Linked DNA regions of Homo sapiens: region 1 is linked to region 2. Evidence: fine-mapped expression QTL. Tissue or cell type: whole blood. Region 2 holds a variant in brackets; the other region holds the start of a gene. All regions are shown on one strand. Distances are from middle to middle.

Region 1 (8,095 bases), 110 kb before region 2:
GGCATATGACCCAACCCCCTTCACTATACTTCCAAGACTTCAGTCTTCGGTCACTTTGCATGAACAAAGGCAGAAATGCACTGAGCTTTGCTGTTTGAAAATATTTTTAGCAATTTTAGTGGTAGAAAAGATGCCCTTTGATACAATTTTGTTTTTGATCTTGTCTTCTTTGAGGAAGGAAAGCAGATTCCAGGCCGGATCTGCTGTTTGAGAGTATAATAATTGCCTAAGGCCAGGCGTGGTAGCTCACGCCTGTAATCCCAGCACTTTGGGAGGCCGAGGCGGGCAGATCACCTGAGATCGGGAGTTCGAGACCAGCCTGACCAACACGGAGAAACCCCGTCTCTACTAGAAATAGAAAATTAGCTGGGCGTGGTGGCGCATGCCTGTAATCCCAGCTACTCGGGAGGCTGGGGCAGGAGAATCGCTTGAACCCAGGAGGCGGAGATTGCGGTGAGCCGAGATCGTGCCATGGCACTCCAGCCCCTGGGTGATAGAGCGAGACTCCGTCTCAAAAACAAAAAACAAAAAACAGAGAGAGTAAGTACGGAACTGCATTTACCTCCACACCTATAATTATCCTTCTTATTATAGGGAAGTTCTATGTCTTTGAACTTTATTCCAAATCCACCCTAAAGAAAAGTATGGATCAGCTGGACCCAGGAGGCCCTTCCCCTGGACCTTGCAGAAAAATGACTGACAATCATGAAATTCACTAAAGGCTTTAAGGTACCTATCTCTTGGAATCCCTTTTACAACTCCTTTTCTTCTAGCTTCGGAATAGTCTAATTATCTTTGTCCCAGGTTTTAGGTTACTTGGGCACATTATTTATGTGCATCGCAATAATGTGATTTCAGTCTATCTCTGTCTCCATTCTGCATAGAGAGGTGTGACAAATTTCCTGTCCTCTGTGGGCTCACACACAGCTGCAGTACCACACGGAATTACAGTGGAAGTTTGAACAGTGGAGACTGTGGGAGCCCAGTGCCCAGAGCAACCTACTCTACTAAGGGAGTTGAGAGGATGGGGAGCTAGACACGTGTTATGTGGATCCAGAGCCACTTGGTACTAAGCTCTTACTCCCTGCAAAACACTTAAAAAAAAAAAAAAAGATCTTAAACACTACCTCTCCTCCCCCCCACCCCCGCCTTCTTTTTGAGACGAGTTTCACTCTGTCGCCCAGGCTGGAGTGCAGTGGCGCAATCTCAGCTCACTGCAAACTCCACCTCCTGGACTCAAGCGATTCTCCCACCTCAGCCTCTGGAGTAGCTGGGATTACAGGCGCGCGCCACCAAGCCGTAACTCCTGGAATCAAGTGATCCCGCGTGCCTAGGCCTCCCAAAGTGCTGGGATTACAGGCATTATCCACCACGCCCTGCCTCGCAGAGCACTTTCAATTCATGCACAAGCCCTTGAATCCCAAACACTCTTGGAGGCAGAGACTACTTTTATTCCAACTTTATAGATAAGGAAGCCAGGGCACTGTCAAGGGAGTTGCCTGGTGCCTGTAAGCAGGGAGCTGAACTGGTAGTTAGAGGAATTGCAATTCCCAGGCTCTGGTTCACTGCGCTACCTCCAGGAATGGGGGTGGAAGTGGAGGGAGGGGGCGGTGTTGCAGGAAGTACATTTGCTTCAATATGAACAGTTAAAATGCCTGGAAACATTAAGAAAGGGAGCGTGCAAAAAAAAATTTCCCTGGTTTCAGCCATTTCTTTCTTTTTTTTTTTTGGGGGGGGGCGGAGTCTTGCTCTGTCGCCCAGGCTAATTTTTGTATTTTTTTTAGAGACGGGGTGTCACGGTGTTAGCCAGGATGGTCTCAGTCTCCTGACCTCGTGATCCGCCCGCCTCGGCCTCCCAAAGTGCTGGGATTGCAGGCGTGAGCCACCGCGGCCGGCCTGGTTTCAGCCATTTCTAACCCTTTTTTAGGTCACTTCAAATAAAATTTGCAAATAACTGCCATGTGGAGAAAATATGCAAATGTTGCTAAACGGAAAAGTCATTCGGAGTGCTGTGAAAGTTGGCTCATTTATTTAGCTGCCTCAAGTGTGCACATCATTCTTTTTCAAAGTGAATGTGTTTAAAGACAAAGCTTTGTATGTTTTCCCGCTTCCTCTCCAATTGGATATTCCAATTATAACGTATTGATTAACAAAATACCCTGGTGGTTTGAACCAAGTATGCCTATGAGCAGGGGTTAATTGAAAATAGGGAACTGCTGTATATTTCAATTCTTTTAGGTACTCCCATGGCGGTACCCTGTACTCGGCTCTACTCAAAAGTAAAACAAAGCCCAGAACCAGGGTAGTCAGTGCATCCCATTGTTGCTATATGCAGTTTGAAGAGCTGTCGGAACTCACAGTTTTCGAACCTGACTCATGTTTACCCTGGTTCATAGGAAAACGAAACTGAAACAAAACCGAGGTCCTTCACCAAAACTCCATGAGAATCCACGAATCTCAGGGCAGGAAGGGACCCTAATATCATTAAACCTAGTGGCTCTCCAAGGGGCATTGTAGAAATCTGTGTATTTCTGGTTGTCACAATGACTGGCGAGAGCTACTGGCATTTAGTGGGCAGGAGCCAGGCACGCTAGGATGTTCTATGATGCTGGTCAGTCCCACAGAGCGAATAATTGAATCACTGGACACATGTCGGTGAAAAACTAGTTCATTATCATCTAAGCCTAGAACTAACACTGTTTTACATATGAACACAAAGTATCTTTGCCCAGTTTCCATATATCCTGAATTTTCCACAAATGCAGGTACTGTTTCAATTGAAGGAAGATTGTACTGTTTTATTTAAAAATTATTAATAGTTCATCATTTTGGAAAATGAGGTTCCTAGTAGCAATGCTGCTCATGGAACTTGAGTTGTGAAATCAACACACCTTTCCAGTTTGCATTTGTGGCTCTACTGGGCAAGTGTCTTCCCACCAGTTAGTGTAGCTGTGCGGCGGCATTTACATATTATAATACATTGTTTTATTATAATCATTTTGCTTTCGTTTGTTGACAGATCATGTTTTTTGAAATTGTGTTTGTAGGTTTACATAAACAATTTAGGTTTTGTTATTTCAGTATAGGTAAAGGGGGCGTTAGAAAATACTCGTTATGAAAAGGAGTTGGGTCTTTCACAGGGTTATGGAATGTAGCAGACTCCTTTTATAGATGAGCAAATTGAGACCCAAAGCCGTTAAACAACTTGCCCCCGACAGTGTGATATTCTCTCCCTATCTCGTTCGAATTTCCGTCTCGATTTTAAAAATTGAGAAGGGAGAGAAGTTATGTGTATAGTAAATTATGTGATGAGCACGAACTATTTGAATTCTGGCAGCAGAAGACCTTTTGTGGGGGTGGTGGAAACCACTGCGTTTTATTTAATTTCGTAGGGCTGAGGGTCAGAAGAGAGGGGAAAGCGGTCATAAGAAACTACGGATGTGCGGGCGCCGGCTCAAAGCCGGGAATCCACTAGTAAACACCTTCTTCTATTTAAGGGCCTGCGGCACCGAAGCCGGGACTTGGGGTGGCCTGCCTAGGAGGGAACCACAGGAAGAGGTTCCACCGACGGTAGAAACCCGGTTCCTCCTGTTCCTCATCCACCGCAGCGGCCTGAGAGTCACCCCGAGCCCAGGCCGGTAACCCCGCTGCAGCCCCTCCGGCAGGCCCAGGTTGCACCGGCTACAAACATTCCCGACACCCTTGGGCCCTAGAAGAGCCGTTCGCCACCCGCGGGGTCCCCGCAACGCCGGTGGTCACCGGCCCTAAGCCGCTGGGCGCCCCGCGGGAGGAAACTAGGGGCAAATGTAGCCCGCATTCCTGCGGAGAGCCGGGGTCCCGGGAGGGCGCGCCAGCGGCGGTTCCGGATCAGCGCGTGTCTGTCTCATTGTTCCCTCACCGCGGGGGGCGGGGGCGGAGGCGCGCGCGCACACGTCGGGGGGTTGGCCAGGAGGGGCCATTGTGTGTTTCTAGGCGGCGCCCCCGCTGCCTAGGCAACCGCGCAGGAAGGTGTCCGGCCACCTGCGCGCGCCGCCGGCTCCCCTCCATTTCCCCCCGACTCCCGCCCCGGTCACCATCCTACCCTCCTCCCTCCTCCTTTCCCCTTACTCCGCTCCCCTCTTTTCCCTCCCTCTCCTCCCCTTCCCTCTGTTCTCTCCTCCTCTTCCCCTCCCCTCCCCCGTCCGGAGCACTCTATATTCAAGCCACCGTTTCCTGCTTCACAAAATGGCCACCGCACGCGACACCTACGGTCACGTGGCCTGCCGCCCTCTCAGTTTCGGGAATCTGCCTAGCTCCCACTAAGGGGAGGCTACCCGCGGAAGAGCGAGGGCAGATTAGACCGGAGAAATCCCACCACATCTCCAAGCCCGGGAACTGAGAGAGGAAGAAGAGTGAAGGCCAGTGTTAGGAAAAAAAAAACAAAAACAAAAAAAACGAAAAACGAAAGCTGAGTGCATAGAGTTGGAAAGGGGAGCGAATGCGTAAGGTTGGAAAGGGGGGCGAAGAGGCCTAGGTTAACATTTTCAGGCGTCTTAGCCGGTGGAAAGCGGGAGACGCAAGTTCTCGCGAGATCTCGAGAACTCCGAGGCTGAGACTAGGGTTTTAGCGGAGAGCACGGGAAGTGTAGCTCGAGAGAACTGGGACAGCATTTCGCACCCTAAGCTCCAAGGCAGGACTGCTAGGGGCGACAGGACTAAGTAGGAAATCCCTTGAGCTTAGACCTGAGGGAGCGCGCAGTAGCCGGGCAGAAGTCGCCGCGACAGGGAATTGCGGTGTGAGAGGGAGGGCACACGTTGTACGTGCTGACGTAGCCGGCTTTCCAGCGGGTATATTAGATCCGTGGCCGCGCGGTGCGCTCCAGAGCCGCAGTTCTCCCGTGAGAGGGCCTTCGCGGTGGAACAAACACTCGCTTAGCAGCGGAAGACTCCGAGTTCTCGGTACTCTTCAGGGATGAGTCATGTGGCAGTGGAAAATGCGCTCGGGCTGGACCAGCAGGTGAGCCGCAAGAACCCCACCGGGCTGGCTGCTGCGTGAATTCCTCCCCTGACCTAACCTGGCTAATGGCGCAGCGCTAACCGGCACCCTTACTTTTCATTTTCTGGGTGCCCCGGGCTGGCGGGTGTGAGTGCCCCGGGGCTATAGAGGGATAGGAATGTTGGTTGGGGCTGTCGCCCGGGCCCGGTCTCGGCCCGCTGTATTGTCCCCGGGACGAGCACAATGGCGGCTTTTGTGTGTGCGTGCGCAGGCGGGCGGAGGGGGAGGAAGTGCGCGCGCTCTCGCGGGGACGCGCATGCGCGAATCCCGACTGATTAGTGACCTGGGGGGGTTTGCGGGAGTGCGCAGCGCGGCGGGACGCGACTGGAGGCCCTTTTGGCTTGGAGGGCTTCGGCCTTCACGGCTGGCGCAGCCTGGATTCCCGTCCGGAGGACCTGGCGGCACCCGGTGTTTGCGTGCCTGCGAGCAAGGGGTAGAACGCGGCCCAGGAATGTGGGAGGGGGCGGCCTTCGCTCGGGGTAATGGCGGCGGCCTCTTTTGTGTGGTGCTGGGCGGCGCTGTGGCTCACCTCCGGGAGACGGCGGGTCTCGGGCGGGCGAAGGCCTGGAAAGGAGGATGGAATGGGTTTCTTGTTTTTTCCCGGGTTCCTTCCGCTGGCTTTTTCGCTTCAGCCCAGGTTCCGCAGGGTCCGGGGGCCCTGCGCCGCAGCCGGGGAGGCTGCGTTTCCGGAGTGGAAAGTTTTGTGACGCAGAAGATTGGGGAGGAGTGGGGGAGGGGTGGGGGCGGGGAGGGGAGGCAGGAATTGGCCGCTGCGCGCTGGGCCCTGGAGATAGAGGTTGGACGTGGCGGGGAGGTTAGGGAGCCAGCGAGGCCCTTTCTCCTCCTTGCTTGCCCCAGATTGTCCCTGTGTGGTATGTTAGCCGGGAGTCCCGCGTTGTTTTTCTGGGGTGGAGGGGTCATCGCGGGTTGTGGTAGTGTCTTCGTGTTAGTGACTGTGATCCAGGAATCCGCCATTGGAAAAACACCCGGCTTAGGGGGGAAGTAAACAGTTTTGTTGTTGACTTGTTGCTATCTGTGGAGTAGAATCTTGCAATGGGTCCCAGGCCCCCGGGTTTTTTCTCTTAGCCAGAATCCCCTCTTCTAAGGGTTTAGGGGCAGAGGAGAGAAAGATGTGTGATTTGAGAGGAGAAGGTTATGGACTTTGGTGGCAGGAAGTCTGCATCCCACCGCAACAGTGGCACCAGGCTTCAGATAAGCTCTTGTGTGGGTTATGCGGAGCTTTTAAATAAACTACTGTCTACTGTGATTAGGGGAGCGTTGATTTCACAAACTCCGGAATAATCCTGAGACGAAGTTTAGTGGCACAAATTAATTGAATACATAGTTTAATGTAGTCATATGTAATATTTTTTAGGAATTGATCTGTTCCTTTGGAAGCATTTTCTACCCGTTAATGAACCAATTATATTAAATCCTCTAATTGCTGACACATGTTGAATTGAACAGACACTTTAACAACCTACCAGCAGCACAGAGTATTCCCAGTTTTACCATTTTCCATTTAGCTATAGTGTCCTTTTAAGGATTCTAGGCAACAGTGAACCTTATTTAAAAAGCAAAATTGTGCTATAACAAGTGCAAAAGGAAAGTTTGTGTTCCTACCGTGCTTTAAAGTATTGATGGTAGCAAGAGAAAGCGCAGTGGTGTTTTTGCTCATAGAAATTCTGGAAATTAGGTGCCTGAAGTCTTACACTCATTTTTTAAAAGTATAGCATCTGCTTCCAGTTTTCAGTGACTCCATTGATGATGCATGCGGTTTGGCCGTATCATACTGAGCTTTAAACACAAGATTTATAAACATGGTATGTAGTGCATCTTTTGCAAACAGGTTGGCAGCGGTACTGTGTGACTTGGTCTTTTGTGGCTTTTTTGAGAAAAATGAAACACTTTGCATGTATAGTTTTTTCTCCCAACTACTTGTGAGTAGTTCCTGGTTATAAAACGTTATGAAGGTAGCACATAACCCTTTTCTAGAATGAAGAGGCTTTTGAGCTACCAGTGTAAGGGGATAGGTAGAAATAGAGATGAAAGGCACTAAGATGTCCTACTCTTTAAGAGCATTGAACGCCAGTTGTGCCATTTATTCAAAGTCATCTTTGAACTTATGTTAAAATGGGGTAAAAACAGGTAACTACTTCAGGCCGGGCTCATGCTTGTAATCCCAGTGCTTTGGGAGGCCAAGGCAGGTGGTTCACCTGACCTGAGGTCAGGAGACCAGCCTGGGCAACATGGCGAAACCCCATCTCTACTAAAAGTACAAAAAGTAGCCTAGCGTGGTGGCGCACCCCTGTAATCCCAGCTACTCGGGGAGGTGGAGGTTGCAGTGAGCCGAGATCACATGACTGAATTCCAGCCTGGATGACAGAGGGAGACTCTGTCTCAAAAAAAATAAAAATAAAAACAAACGAAACAGTCAAACTACTTAAGAGTTGTGCTTAACATAGTGTTCTGTAAGTGGTAGGTATATTGCTATTTTTTTGTTGTTCTTAAGAGTACTACCCGACTAAAAATACTTGGGCAATATTTAGGGATGAAGTATCTAACTAAAAGAACGGCCACTTCGAAATTTGTCCTGACATTTTTCAGGTGTGCATTTTAGGTTTAAAATATCAAGTATTACGGAAAGTTGGCATTGGAAACTTTCATAACCGGCACTAAAACGAATCCTTTATCTATTTGACATTGAGGAATAATTTTGAGATTCAGTGTAAGCTTTAGTTTGGTGATTAGGGAGCCTGTGCTATGGAACATGTTAGTGAAAATTTATTTTGAATGCATGAATTAAATTTGGACAGTTTCTACTGAACAGCACAAGCATCTTGGTGTGCCGCCTTCTGTAGTATATACAATAGTAATATTGCATTTGCTTAGAGCATTGCAGACTTGAAAACATTCTTAGTCACATTCTCATTAAGGGTTGGTATTAGCCCTGTGAGGTGGACTGGGCAACTACTTGAATGCAGTACTAGCAAATGCTAGAGGGCAGGACTAGTTTTCTCTTAATGTAGTATTTGAGCACATGGGGTGCTAACCATCTCAC
Region 2 (8,105 bases):
ATGTCATAGCAAAAGGCAGTACAATAAATAAATAAGGTCATTACATAATGCTCAAATGTATATTACATTATGAAAATTGAAAATACTGAATGTATGTGTTACAAAAACCATTGTAACAAACCCATAAAAGAAAATAGACAAAAAGGCAAGAAGAAGTAAATATGATTTTAATTGGAACCCTCAATATTCCATTTCTGGAAAAAATAGACACAAACTAAATTGAAAAATACTGTATAATTGAATAATTCTTTCAAAAAACTGTTTTCAGGGCTTACTAGATTTTAAGTCTGTGCTACATGCTAGAAGACAAGTCCATGAACAATATGAATTTAACAGACTTATGGAGAGATTAGAGATGGGACAAGTTAATATTGTCTCTTTTCAAGTGTACATAGATCATACCATCTGCAAACAAACGAACATATAAAAAAACTAAGATCCTATATTGGACAATAAAGACTCATTCTTTCATTAGTTTAGCACACATTAACCAGTTTATTCAATGTATTAGGTTGTTTTGGTATTCACAGAAAGGCAGAAACACCATCCACCAAATGGTCAAACCACAGGTCAATAAAATTAAAAAAAAAATAAAAGCAAGTAGGGCTCGGTGGCTCACGCCTGTAATCCCAACACTTTGGGAGGCCGAGGTAGGCAGATCACCTGAGGTCAGCAGTTTGAGACCAGCCTGGCCAATATGGTGAAACCCTGTCTCTACTAAAAATACAAAAATTAGCCAGACATGGTGATGCACGCCTGTAATCCCAGCCTCTGAGTGGGAGGCTGTGGCAAAAGAATTGCTTGAACCTGGGAGGCGGAGGTTGCAGTGAGCCGAGATCGTGCCACTGCACTCCAGCCTGGGTGATAGAGTGAGGCTCAAAAAAAAAAAAAAAAAAGTACAATTCAATAGCAGTAGGTACACTTACATTGTTGTGCAACCATCACCACTATCCTTCTCTAGAATGCTTCCCTCATCTCACACTGAAGCTCTATACCCTTTAAACTATAACTCCTGATTCTCTCCTCTCTCCAGGAAATTCACTTTTGAGCTTAAACTGTTTTGAGTTAGATACTTGTACCTTGCAATCAAGAGTCAACTAACATAACTTTGTAAGAGAATATATATAATATATAGAATATATATATATATTCTATATATAATATATAGAATATATATATATTCTATATATAATATATAGAATATATATATTCTGTCTCTATATATTCTCTATATATATATTCTCTATATTCTCTATATATTCTATATCTATATATTCTATATCTATATTCTATATCTATATATTCTTTATATTCTATATATATTCTTATCTATATTCTATATATATTCTTATCTATATTCTATATATATTCTTATCTATATTCTATATATATTCTTATATATATTCTATATATTCTTATATATTTTCTATATATATTCTTATATATTTTCTATATATATTCTATGTATATTCTATATATATTCTATATATGGATTACATATAATCTCTATATATTCTATATATATGGATTATATATAATCTCTATATATTCTATATATATGGATTATATATAATCTCTATATATTCTATATATATTCTATATATATATTCTATATATATATTCTATATATATTCTATATATATATTCTATATATATTCTATATATATTCTATGTATAATCTATATGGATTATATATATTCTATGTATATTCTATATATATTCTATATATACAGGTGAGGTGGCTCACACCTGTAATCCCAGCACTTTGAGAGGCCAAGGTGGATGGATCATCTGAGGTCAGGAGTTCGAGACCAGCCTGACCAATATGGTGAAACCCCATTTCTACTAAAAGTACAAAATTAGCCAGGCATGGTGGTGCATGCCTTTAATCCCAGCTACTTGGGAGGCTGAGGCAGGAGAATCACTTGAACCCAGGAGATGGAAGTTGCAGTGAGCCAAGATCATGCCATGGCACTCTAGCTTGGGCAACAAAAGTGAAACTCCATCTCAAAACAAACAAGCAAACAAATATTCTCTGCTGGGTACAGTGGCTCACGCCTATAATCCCAACACTTTGGGAGGCCAAGGGAGAAGGATAGTTTGAGTTCAGGAGTTCAAGACCAGCCTGAGCAGCATAGTGAGACACTGTCTCAACAAAAAAAAATTTTTAAATTTAGGCAGACATGGTGGTGCATGCCTGTAGTCCCAGCTACTCAGGAGGTTGAGGCAGGAGAATCTCTTGAACCTGGGAGGTGGAGGCTGCAGTGAGCTGAGATTGCAACACTGCACTCCAGCCGGGGCGACAGAGTGAGACTCTGTCTCAAAAAAACAAAAAACAAAAAAACAAAAAACCACAAAACACACACACATACACAAACAATAACTGGCCAGGCACGGTGACTCACGCCCTTAATCCCAGCACTTTGGGAGGCCGAGGCAGGTGGATCACCAGGTCAGGAGTTCAAAAGCAGCCTGGCCAAGATGGTGAAACCCCATCTCTACCAAAAATACCACGCCCGGCCCTTGGTGTAACTTTTATTGAAAAAAAAATCCAAGTGTAAGTGGTTACGCGAAGTGTAAACCCATATTGTTCAAGGGTCAACTGTATCGGGAAATGGAGAGACCTACTTTGTTTTTTGTTTGACATCTGCTGCAATGGGAGAGAAACCTACTTTGGATGCAATGTAAAGAACGATGATTTCAGAAGAGGCCCCAGGAAGGTGTATTTGTGGGCAGTGGGCAGAGCCTGTTGGTGAGCTAACCCTTCATTTACAGGTGACAAACAGGCCATGCGCACTACGCGGCCTGGTCAGGAGGACACGGCACTGGGAGATCTTCCCCAGGGTGTGACCTTTGGCAGGTTAGGTCCCCACCCTGGCATCCCTTCCAGCCCGGGCATTCTGCGACTCCAGGTGCGTGAGGAACGTTTCTGGCACCAGGCACGCCCTGGGACTTTCCCCAGCCCTGGCCCCCGCCCCCACCGAGTAGGTGCGGGTGCCGCGGCGGGGAGCAGACAGAGGTCCCGGGGCCGCCCCACCCCGACTCCCGAACCTCGGTGCCCTCTGGCGGCCACGCTGGGCAGGACCGGGCTCATCGGGGGCGTGGCTCGCCCCGGAGGCTCCGCCCCTT[C/T]TCCCCAGGGTGGGGCCGGGGTGGTGGTTACCGGCAGAGGCTGCAGAGGTTTCGCAAGGACGTGACCTTTATGGGAAAAAAAAACCACTGTGTCACGCACGGTTGCCAGCCGGGGCCAGCGAGCTGAACTAGTTTTCTGAAGCCCGCGGAGGGAGGAGCCAGAGCGGAAACGTCCAGCCCAGTGACTCGCTGCCTACTGCCCCTCCAGGACCGCGGCGGCGCGCCCTGAGCCCCGGGGCACCAGATGGGGCGCGAGCCCGCACCTAACTGTGTCCGGGCCTGCCGTTGGGGCGACGTCACTGTCACTACACTGGGAGTCAGCGGAATGAGGGCACTCTCGCCTCTCTTCCTCCTTCCTCCAATTCCAGAAATGAGGCCCGGGAGCCCAGGCTGATCCAATCCAACCCCACTGAGCTGGGGTTTGGATTGGAAGGGCGGATGTGAAACGACAGAAGTAGGATAGTTTGCGAATAAAGAACAAGGGAGTTGGGTGCTTTAGCCACAGAATAGGTTCAGCCAAGGTCATTTAGAGGTGCCCAGCAAGAGGGGAGTGGCTACCCCTCCCCCATCCTGATCTGAGGCATGCAGTGGGGACGTCGGGGGTGGCCACAGGGGCTGTGTGTGTCCTTATTAGGACCCGAGAAAAACCCAGGGACTGGGAGGCAGGAGGACAGGGTACCCACTGGGTCCCAGCTCCACCTTCATATGTCACTCTGGGGAGCAGGTCACTTAATCTCTCTGGGCCTCAGTTTCCTCACTTGAAGAATGAGGGGTCTGGACAAGATTATGGAATATGTTTCGAGTACAATCAGGCCTAGGAACTGAAAGTCCCTGTCCTGACACCATCCAGTAAGTCAGAGAAAAAGGAAGGGTAAGAGGCCAAGGCTGTCACTCACCCGGTTCTCTTTCTATAGCTCCCTTACAAATTCTCACATGGGCTTCAATTCCCTTCAGCAAACAATTGTGCACTTCCGCCTGTGTGCCAAACCCAGGCTTGGGCCCAGCTTTGTGGGGCCTGGGGCAAGAGTACGCACGGAGGACCACACACTGTATGTCTGAATATTTAAAAGCTACACATCAAGCTAAAAAACTGTTAAATAAAACATGTTCTATCCTCCTATCTGAGCAGATATACCTTCATAACAATCTGGAAGGTTAAATTCAAGTTTGCAATTCTTGCATTCCTCAGCATTCTGGGCTAGGGTGTGATGGCACAGAGAGTGGCCCCAGCTCAAGGCCATGGCGTAGCTTCCCTCTATTCCCAGGCCGGATCCATCCCATGCTATAGCGGATCTTTCCCACGCACGTCCTCATATCCAAGCTCTGTCCCCTTCTCTGCAACTGTCTACCCCCTAAAGGATCACCTCTCGAGTATGCACATTGGTGAGACCATCCACCTTCAGGAGACTGGACCTAGAGGAGTGGGTTCAGAACCTGTTGGGCAGTGAATTCCCAGGTCGCAGGTATCCAGAACGTGGTTCTGGGTGGGTAAGTGTCTTGGCCTCAATGACTCCTTGCCCTGTGTCTCCCTGCCTCTTGCCCTGTCTGAAGGCGACACCAGCCAGACATTGTGGGAGTGCAGACTTGGATCAAGCACAGCCCCTCCAAGGAGGCCAGCCATCCAAACACTATGAACTTTGGGCGCAGTGGCTCAGGCCTGGCGTGGTGGCTCACGCCTGTAATCCCAGCACTTTGGGAGGCCGAGGTGGGCGGATCACTTGAGGTCAGGAGTTTGAGGCCAGCCTGGACAATATGGTGAAACCCCATCTCTACTAAAAATACAAAAATTAACCGGACATGGTGGCGCGTGCCTGTAATCCCAGCTACTCCGGAGGCTGAGGCAGGAGAATTGTTTGAACCCGGGAGGCGGAGGTTGCTGTGAGCCGATAGCGCACCACTGCACTCCAGCCTGGGCAGCAGAGCGAGACTCAGTTTCAAAACAAACAAACAAACAAACAAACAAACAAACAAACAAACACTGTGAACTTCGAGGCAGATGCCTGCAAGTGAGAAAGGAGGGCACTGGAAGGGGATTCATTTCTTAGAGGTGGTAGCGCTTATGCTAAGCATAGCAGGCAGATTGAGATTTCAGCAGGTGGAGAAGTGGGGAAAGAAAGGAGCAAAGCAAAGGCCCAGGAAGGGCTACCCAGGGTTGGGGTGTCTGTGAATTGTCACTACAGGGCAGAAAGGCTGGAGGGCAAATCTGTGTCCTCCAGATAGCAGGCAAAGCCTCCAGTAGTCGCCGGCTGTCTTAATTAATCGGTAATTCTTACCAATTCCAAGGTGGGGAAGCCTGGCCAAAACGGCGAAACCCCATCTCTGCTAAAAACACAAAAATTAGCCAGGCATGGTGGCCGGCGCCTGTAGTTCCAGCTACTTGGGAGGCTGAGGCAGGAGAATGGCTTGAATCCAGGAGGTGGAGGCTGGCAAAATCATGCATCTTGGGCCATCACTATTTCTCAAGGTCACTTACACACCCCTTCTCCCTCCTTCAGCTCCTTTTATGGGCTACCAACTGCATGATGAGTGAGAACTAGCATGGGTACAAAACCACCCCAGGAGGGCCAGGTACAGTGGCTCACGCCTGTAATACCAACATTTTGGGAGGCTGAGGCCAGTGGATCATTTGATGTCGGGAGTTCGAGACCAAACTGGCTAGCATGGTGAAACCTCATCTTTACTAAAAATACAAAAAAAATTAGCCGGGTGTGGTGGTACTCACCTGTAGTCCCAGCTACTCAGGAGGCTGAGGCAGGAGAATTGCTTGAACCCGGGAGGCAGAGGTTGCAGTGGGCTGAGATCACGCCACTGCACTCCAGCCTGAGGGACAGAGTAAGGCTCCATCTCAAAAACAAAAACGAAAAAATCCCTCCCCCAGCAGCCCACGAGTGGCTGGAGTAGGCTCTGAAAGGGCCGGCCTTTCTCCTGTCTTGAGCTTTAAGTTTCTCCCAGGGGAAGTCAGTCAATCGCATTTCCTGTAACAACCCTGGGCCACCTGCTTTTCTCCCTGCAGCAAGGTTTTGATTAAGGGCTGCTCATCCTCCCAAGTCGGTGGTACCAGCTCACCTGGTGGATGGGCTCCTTCCTTTTTATGCCAAGAGTCTCTGATGCCTCCTTATTTTCCACTTGGGAGAAATGTTTCAGTTCACAGGTGGAGAAGAAGGTCTTCCTTAGTGGGATCCCAGTGCCAGAGCACCAGGCCCACTGGCCTGGAGAAGATTGAAGGGAAGGTTGGACCAATAAGCTGCGAACAAAGGTTGTGGGTGCAGACAGGTTGGCTCTTACAGTCGAGATTCAGCCTCTGGACTGCTGCTGGGGGAGTGGGGGCTTCGTTGGGCTAAGGCTTGGGGTGATGGCTACAGGGACACCTCCGACACTGGTGGTCACAATGAGAGGGCTGCCCACTGCTCTCATCTAATAAGCCAGGCGAGTCCAACACTGGGGATAGAGATGTCATTTGAGAGGCCTCCCCCACCCACATCCCTACCCCATCCCTAGTATTCTCTTCTTTCCAGCAGGTTAGACAAGTTCAGCCACATTTTGGCTTTCAAGGCTCAAATGGAAGAAAACAAAAATTCCCCAGGGCACGGTGGCCTGAGATGTCTAGATTCACATCCAGAACCCTTTCTGTGGGAAGGGAACTCCTGGCTTCCTTTCATCAGCACTGGCTCACCAAGTCCTGCGTGGCCAGAACTTGGCAGGTTGCCATGGATACCTGGAAGTGCTGTCCCAGCAGACAGCAGAGGCTTGCTGGGGCCAGGAGAATGTGGGGGCACCTGAACTGCTGGCCAGAAAGGCTAGATAAACAGGCCCCCCTGCCACCCTCATTTTGATCAGACCCCCTCCACCAGTCTCCTAAAACAGGGCTTTCCAAACTTTACCGGGCACAGGAATCCCCCTCTCCGCCGACCTAGTTAAAATGCAGATGCTGGCCGGGCGCGGTGGTTCACGCCTGTAATCCCAGCACTCTGGGAGGCCGAGGCGGGTGGATCACAAGGTCAAGAGATCAAGACCATCCTGGTCAACATGGTGAAACCCCGTCTCTACTAAAAATACAAAAAATTAGCTGGGCATGGTGTAGTCCCAGCTACTCAGGAAGCTGAGGCAGGGGAATCGCTTGAACCCAGAAGGTGGAGGTTGCAGTGAGCCAAGATTGTGCCACTGCACTCCAGCCTGGGCGACAGAGTGAGACTCCATCTCAAAAAAAAAAAAAAAAAAAAAAAAGCAGATGCTGATTCAACAGGTCTGGGGCGGGGGGTAGAAGGCGCTGAGATTCTGTTTTCCTAACGAGCTCTCAGGTACTGCTGCTGGTCCACCGGCCACACTGAGTAGCCAGGGCCTAAACTGAGTCCTGGTGGGTTTCAGAAACCTCAGCCAGATTCTGAAGGTCCCATTCCTGGACCCACTGCCTTAGGCCACCACTACCAGCCCTAACCCCAGTGGGAACCTCTTGCCTTCTTGTAGTGGAAGGACTCTCTCCAGTCCGTTTTTGTATCATTCACCATCAACCACTTCAAAGAAAGGAAATCAGCAGCCGGCATTTTGGGGAAACATTTTAAGCTGTCCTGTCCCTTCTCCAGCTCTCCAAGTTATATAATGCGTCCTTGTTGAAAATGCTGATAATGCTGTTTGGGTGGCAGGAAGCCAATTTCAGGCTACATATTGCTTGGGGCTGGGGCTGGGGTCAGGGAACGGGGCAGGGTCTGGGGAAGGTTTAAGGAGAGAAAGGGGCCAGGCAGATGGAGAGAGGACAGGAGGGCCAGGGTGGTCAAGGCCCGGGGATAAAGCCGATTGGTATGTCAGCAAAATCTGTCACTGGCTTTAGTGATTCGAAAGGCAGACACATTCTTTCATCTCTGTTAATCCTCATGTGATACAGAGGATTTTCCTGCCATTAAATCTGGAGAAAGAAAAATAAGCACTCAAACCTGCACAAGTAACTATTCCTCTTCACCCCTTCCTCCCGTCCCCCCACC

The links. PIP is the estimated chance that this variant, and not a neighbour inherited with it, causes the effect.
Region 1: it holds the start of DDX3X, and the variant in region 2 is fine-mapped to the expression of DDX3X in whole blood (TOPMed, PIP above 0.99).

The regions. Positions count from the first base shown.
Region 1 is chrX:41,329,303-41,337,397 of GRCh38, forward strand. DDX3X (DEAD-box helicase 3 X-linked) reads left to right here and starts at 4,860. Exons shown (of 17, transcript NM_001356.5): 1 at 4,860-4,995. The coding sequence starts at 4,951. RefSeq lists a silencer at 3,681-4,170 and an enhancer at 4,261-4,490.
Region 2 is chrX:41,439,290-41,447,394 of GRCh38, forward strand. NYX (nyctalopin) reads left to right here and starts at 8,054. Exons shown (of 3, transcript NM_001378477.3): 1 at 8,054-8,105. RefSeq lists enhancers at 2,741-2,790, 3,731-3,800, 5,720-5,789, 5,940-6,009, 6,130-6,179 and a silencer at 2,901-3,410. The variant C/T (reference allele first, on the strand shown) is at 3,130.